2 separate regions of the Homo sapiens genome follow, and region 2 is reported to be linked to region 1. The links are microRNA targets in miRTarBase. Many come from high-throughput screens and were not tested one by one. Region 1 holds a microRNA gene; the other region holds the end of a gene's coding sequence.

What was found. The annotated mature microRNA hsa-miR-1237-3p reads UCCUUCUGCUCCGUCCCCCAG and lies in region 1 at 1,996-2,016, opposite strand. An mRNA with a match to its seed (bases 2 to 7 or 8) in the 3' UTR can be bound and repressed. Matches are read on the target gene's strand: a 7mer-m8 pairs with bases 2 to 8, a 7mer-A1 pairs with bases 2 to 7 and ends in A, and an 8mer does both.
Region 2: miRTarBase lists CREBRF as a target of hsa-miR-1237-3p. Seed matches in the 3' UTR shown: 8mer at 1,733-1,740.

Annotation. Positions count from the first base shown.
Region 1 is chr11:64,367,291-64,370,698 of GRCh38, reverse strand. It overlaps MIR1237 (microRNA 1237), which reads right to left and starts at 2,097; the gene lies at 1,996-2,097. RPS6KA4 (ribosomal protein S6 kinase A4) reads right to left here. Exons shown (of 17, transcript NM_003942.3): 10 at 2,439-2,567; 11 at 2,098-2,231; 12 at 1,902-1,995; 13 at 1,080-1,253; 14 at 806-1,000; 15 at 315-474; 16 at 1-136. RefSeq lists an enhancer at 1,021-1,540.
Region 2 is chr5:173,133,098-173,136,505 of GRCh38, forward strand. It overlaps CREBRF (CREB3 regulatory factor), which reads left to right. Exons shown (of 9, transcript NM_153607.3): 9 at 533-3,408. The coding sequence ends at 648. Among named protein-coding and RNA genes, the nearest start is that of BNIP1, 9.7 kb to the right of the region's middle.

The sequences.
Region 1 (3,408 bases):
ACTGCGGGCCCAGAGGACTCGAGCACGTCGGGCGTCCGGAGCGGGGGCGAGGAGCGCGCGCTGCCGTCCTGCAGCCACGAGCTGCCCCGCAGTCCCTCGAGCTTCAGCCGCTTGGCGGGGTCCACGGTCAGGAGCCCTGGAGGCGGGGCAAGGAAGTGTGGGGAGGAGCCTGGCGTAAAGGCTGAGCCCCAAAGAGATCGTAACAGCCCCACTCTCCTCCCCTACCCATCCCCAACCAGGACACCTGGCCCAGTGACCATCCCTGTCCCAGCGTCCCCCTCCCCAACCATGGTCTATGACCTCCAGCTCCGCACCTCGGACCAGCTCCTTGGCTTCCTCGGATACACCCTGCCAGGCCTCCCCGTCAAGGGAGAAGCGCCCCTCGCGGATTTTGCACATGATCTCGGCCGCCTGGCTCTGCCCGCCCTGGCCAGAGGCCCCCTGGAAGGGGACCTGCCCCGACAGCATCATGTACTAGGAGGGTGAGGGGAAGGTGAGGCCGGCCCAGGCTGGGGTGCCGAGGCTGACCCCTCCGCTCCCACAGAACCACTCACCCTCCCCACTAGGGGCACTCCTGAGACCCACGCGTGGTGAACCCTGACTTCTAACCCCCAATACCCGGATGCTCCGACTCTAGCACCAGAGCGACCCCACCTCTGTATTTGAACCACCCCGATCCCAGCTTCGGACGAAACCCAGCCGCCCCCACCAAGATGACCCCTGTCCCCTCCCTCGTGCTGCTGCACATCAGGAAGACGCCAGGTCCGAGCGACCCTGACCCCGCCTCAAGGACCGCGTCCCATACCAGAATGACGCCCAGGCTCCAGAGGTCGCAGGACTCGTCGTAGCCCTGCTGCGCCAGCAGCTCGGGGGCAGCGTACTGCAGCGTGAAGCAGGGCGTCTGCATGGGCACCCCGGGACTCTGCGGCCGCAACCGCGCGAACCCGAAGTCGATGATTTTCACCGGGGCCCCGGGCGTGTCGTCGGCGTACAGGATGTTCTGCGAGGGCGGCGGGGTAGTGGTCAGAGGCAGCCCCCGGCGCCACCGCTCCGCCCCGCCGCCGAGGCAGCTCGCCCACCTCCGGCTTGAGGTCGCGGTGCACCACGCCCGCCTCCTCGTGCATGAAGCTCACGGCCGACACGAGGCTGCGCAGGATCTGGCTTGCTTCCGACTCGCTGAAGTGCCGCTTCTTGCGGATGTGCTCCAGCAGCTCCCCGCCCCGCAGCAGCTCCAGGACCAGGTACGTGTGCAGCTGCGGGCGGCGTGGCGGGCCAAGGTCAACACCCACCCACGGCGGCAAGCCCCCTCCCACCACCCAGGCCCCGCCCCCGGCCTTCGGGCCCTGCCAATGTTCGAGAACCCCCTCCTCAAAGTCCTTTTTCTTTCTTTCTTTCTTTGTTACTTTTTTGGAGACAGTCTCGCTTTGTCGCCCAGGCTGGAATGCAGTGGCACCACCTCGGCTCACTGCAACCTCTGCCTTCCGGGTTCAAGCGATTCTCGTGCCTCAGCCTCCCAAGTAGCTGGGATTACAGGCGCACGCCACCGCGTCCGGCTAATTTTTGTATTTTTCGTAGAGACGGGGTTTCGCCATGTTCCCAGGCTGGTCTCGAACTCCCGACTTCAAGTGATCCGCCCACCTCGACCTCCCAAAGTGCTGGGATCACAGGCGTGAGCCATCGCGCCCGGCCAAAGTCCCTTTTCTTGTCCATCCTCAGCTCCGCCTTCCCGTCCTCAGGCCCTACTCCCCTCAAATTCCACTCCCTGCGCCTCCCTGGTCCCTTTGGGCCCCGAATCAAACGCTAGGCCCCGCCCAATTCACCCCTAGATCCCGCCCATAGTGCCCCCAAGCCCCGCCGCCTGCCCCTTTTCTCTCCGCCCTCCCCTGGCCGGAAGCCATCACCTGGTCGTGATGCACCTCGTGCAGATTCACCACGTTGGGGTGTGACTGGCACAGGCGCAGGGCAGCCACTTCGCGCTGCGTGTTCGCCTCCAGCCTGGGGGACGGAGCAGAAGGAGTTACGGTCGCCGCGCTTCGGCCCCGCCCCCGGGACAGCGCTCTGCCACCCCCACCCCTGCCCGCGCCTGGGCCCTCCCACCTGCGACTGAGGATCTTGACTGCGAACTCCTGGCCGCTCTGGCGCTGGCGGCAGCGGCGACACACAGAAAAGCTGCCCTGGCCCAGCGCAGGCTCCCGCAGGTCCAGCTCGTACTGCTGGAAGAAGGGCGAGTCCTGGAGGCGAAGGCGAAGGCGAAGGCGAAGGCGGCGCGTCAGAGGTCCCACCTGGTAGCCCCGCGGCCCCGCCACGCCCCATGTCGGAGAGGCTTAGGACCTTGCTGAGCTCACGCTGCGGGCGCCAGTTGGATCTAGGCCTAGAGTCCCCGGGCCTAGGCCTCTCCTAAAACCAATTTCCCCCCAACCCAGCCCAGCCCAGCCCACCTGCATCATAGCGCTCCTGGCCACCGCTGCCCGACCTGGCCGGTCTCCAGCACCAGGCGCTTCCAGCCCATCGGTCATCACCGCGTTGTTGTGGTCAAAGAGAATGGAGGGTGCCACAAAGGAGTATCCCTGCAGGGCGGGAGTCCGGGGAATGGGCATGGGCATGGGGGTTGGGGGTGCGGGTGAGGAGACTCTGGTGGGGAACCAGGCAAAGGCAAGACCCTGGACAAGGGGGCAGTGGGGGGTGTTCCAGTTGCATTCTGGTACACACAGGATGTGTGGACACTTTTTATTCCACCTGGTTTTATAATCACTTGGGGCCATGTCTGTCCCCACCAGCCTGTGACCCCAACTTTCTCATCAGAGTGACCACTTATTCCTCCCCAGGTGCCAAGGGCTGAAGGCACTGAAAGGACCAATGAATATATTGAAAGTGTGGCCTGAGTTCACGCTTAGCTTATGAGAATCCAACTCTATCCGCTGAGGAAAAAAAACTTATTCCTCCCTTTCAAGCCGGACTTTGGCTTCTTCTGCAAGGGGAGCTACTGAAGAAATGCAAAAAGAAGGCAGAGTTAATTCTTTGCTTTTCCTAAAGATCCATGTCCTGGCAATTTGAGGAGCTTTTAAGGGTCATTTTAATTGCGTGTTGTGGCCAGGCACGGTGGCTTGCGCCTGTAATCCCAGTACTTTGGGAGGCTGAGGCAGGTAGATCACCTGAGGTCAGGAGTTTGAGACCAGCCTGACCAACATGGAGAAACCCCATCTCTACTAATAATACAAAAATTAGCCAGGCGTGGTGGCACATGCCTGTAATCCCAGCTACTCGGGAGGCTGAGGCACGAGAATCGCTTGAACCCGGGAGGCAGAGGTTGCGGTGAGCCGATATCATGCCATTGCACTCTAGCCTGGGCAACAAGAGCGAAACTGCGTCTCAAAAAAAAAAATTAATTATCTGGGAGTGGTGGCACTT
Region 2 (3,408 bases), not on the chromosome of region 1:
TCTTCTCTTCCAACATTTCTTATTCGTTCATTCACTTTTTTAAATGAAGAAAAGGAAACTTAAACTGTATCCAGTAATTATAAAAATGACCCAAAACATCCTTCAGGTCTATATTTTCAGTTTCATGGGTGAAACCTACCCATGGAACTTGGTGAGTTTAGAGTAATTGGAAGAGACTGGCTGAGAGAACAGGGAAAAACCAGGGCGTGGGAAGCAGTGCCTGTCGGCAGCCTTTGGGTTTGGGTTTGGACTGTTATTTGGACTGTTACACTTGTCATCTACCTCACTTTAAATGTTGGTTTATGATTTTTCATGGCTATCCTTGGTTTGACTTTTCTAATCTTAAAATTTTAGACAGTAATATGAAGGGTAGCATTGTTTTCTGAGCTGCAATAACAAGTGCCAGGGAATTCATTTGGGACCAGTATCAAGCTGAGGGCCACACCTGAACCTCAGTTTTTACCAGCTCCTTCCCTTCCCTTCATGGCCTTCCATTTTTGTGTCTAGATGTGCCTTTTATTCTTCTCTTCAGGTCTACCAGTTGCTGGGCAAACCTCAGAATTTGTTAACCAAGTGTTAGAGAAGACTGCAGAAGGGAATCCCACTGGAGGCCTTGTAGGATTAAGGATACCAACATCAAAGGTGTAATCAGCCTCATTGGACCACTGGTCAGAAATGTCTGCGTTTTGTCACGTTATCCATTGTAAATTTTCATTCTGTTTTGCATGTCAGTTAGCATTATGTAAACATTTACAATTAGGTTACATTGTTTTAAGAACTAAGTAGCATAAGTGAAGCATGATCCAAAATACTTGATTATTGCATTTTCAGAGCATAAACCATGATTAAAACTGCTACTGGCATCAGAATTGAAAATCATATGTTTAAGTAAATGTTAGGTACAGATTACAAAAATCTGTTAAAGCAAAACATTTTGGAGGAGTGAAATAGTAAAATGCCAAGTATTGTGGCAGATTTATGCTCTGAACCACACAAAAAAATTGAGGAAGCATTTTTTTAAACAGTCGGTTTAAATTGTTTTTAGAATTATTGCTTTTTGTTCTAATTTTCCACAACCATTAATCTCACTTGTATATGGCACACCCAGCACTTGTGCCTGTGGGCCATATTAGATGTTCATTGTCAGAGCTCAAGATGATATATATAAATATATATATATATATATATATATACACACACACACACAAATGTCTGTGCAAGTAAGAAAAAAAAAGCATATTCTTTGTGCCTTGTATTTTGGGGAAACTCTAAAACTGGTAATATTTTGTATGATGAAAACCCTAATGAGAAAAAACAAGATATATAGATGGAAAAATTATGGGGTTTAAATGTTTTTTTGTTCCAACTCTTTTTCAGATTTTTTGAATGTATATAGGACTATGTTGAAATGTAGATATATGCCACAGAGTCTGTGTATTGTATAAAAAACAAAACAAAAAACAACAAAAAAAAGATGGCTCTAGAAAACTCATATTTCGGTACTTGACCGGAAGAAGACAAATACTTGCACATTATTGCGATTGTTTTATTTTTTGTACCAAAGACAAATGCAACTGATATGGCAAACTGCCAGTCTAAGTAAAGTTTTGCACAGCTTACATGATACTGTATGAATGTATGAAAAAAAAGGAGAAAAAAAAGAAAAAAAAAGGTCAGGGTTAGGGATCTTACTGAACTGTGAATTTTATTTCTGTTTGGGTCCAATTATCTACAGAAGGAGCATCCATACATACAAATATTATTTTGCTGTTCCTCTAGTTCGCTTCCATAGTAGATAAGTTGGTGGCCATTTAGATGTCTTTTATTTCTGCACTTATTGTAGGAAATTTTAATATATTTCATTTTAGTAAGCTATTGATAAAATAGTTTTTGACTTTGAAAATTAAAATGTTTATTTAGCTTATTGTAGTATACTTCCACCAGACAACAAAATAGATTATTTTTATTGTATTATGTATATATATATATGTAAAGAAAGAAAAAAGCTAAAAATATCTAATTCTTTAGTTGCCACTTTTCCGATTGATGTATTATTGTGCATGTAATATTTTCAAAGATCAACACAGGCTAAAACAAAAACAATTTATAGATTTTTATATTTTTGTACAGGTATTTTCAAACTAGCTTCTTCAAACTTAACATGTGACTTATTCTTCTATAGTTTCTAGAATTGAGAAACATTAACACATTTAGTTTTTAGGTGCTCTTTTTTGCTCATATAAAACAGCTTCATTAGTCAGTGTTTTAACTGTGTTCAAGCTTTACCTCTTGATGAGAAATTTCTTATGTCAAGGCAGCATTATAAACCTTCCCCCACAGATTTTTCCATCCTGTCTCTCTTACTGTTTTATTCTCAAATCTTGTGCTTTGAACTCTGAAAACTGGTGGCTTAAAAACTAAAAAAAGAAAAAAAGCATATTTAGCAAGGAAAAAAATACCAAAAATTTCAGGCATAGCTGCTGGAAAAATTATCTATTTCTCCATTACCCACTGTAGGATTTCTTTTTTAATTATACTTTGACTATAAAGTGTCAAAGTATAATTTGTTCTTTTCTTTTACTTTGTTACCCCATTTGTAAGCTATAGCATATGAAGCTATATATATAGCTTGTGAAGGTTTGATCTAGAACACCCAGTAACAAATGAACAATGTTGCTTACCTGCTTCTTTGACATCTTAAAAAAGAAATCCAAGGAGGATTGTAAGGATTGTCTTACCACCTTAGCTGAACTGTGATGCACAAGATTTTTCTATGTGTTTGGTGGAAATGTACCTGGTTTGTACATTCACGCTAAACAGATGATAAGCTCAAGTCTGATGGTTTAATAGAATGTAAGTTCATCGTTTAAAGCTTTTCCTTTTTAGGTTGGAGAAGGCAAAACACAGGCTTGCAAGTTGGAAGTATATGAAGTCTTGACAGAGTGTGTCTGGTAAATTGAAAAGTGTTTCAAACTATGGCAGTTTTGCAATCAGGTGAAAATCACCTCATGATATTCAGCTGATAAGGTTTATAAAATTGCCCCTTTCTAGCTGCTCTGTTAGGAATTCTGGTTTTTGATACTTTTTTCCTGTCTGCAAACCAGAATTTGATTTTTTGGTCTTGCATTTCAAAAAAAAAAAGACTTTGAATCTGTTTAGTAGATTCCATATCTTTGAGTTTCAGTGTTTTATATGTACTACTTAAGTTAAATAGTTAAAAGCTTTTAAATAGTTGAGCTTTTTAATGTTGACACTTTATTTTGTACCTATTTATATATGTATGTATATCTTAGAAAAGCACTTTGTTAAAAAAAAATTGCATTTTATATGATTCCTGCCATTTGCTGCTAAATCTGGGCTGGTCAGAATGCTGCAGCGATACTTGATCTATATAAAAACCTGGCAGTA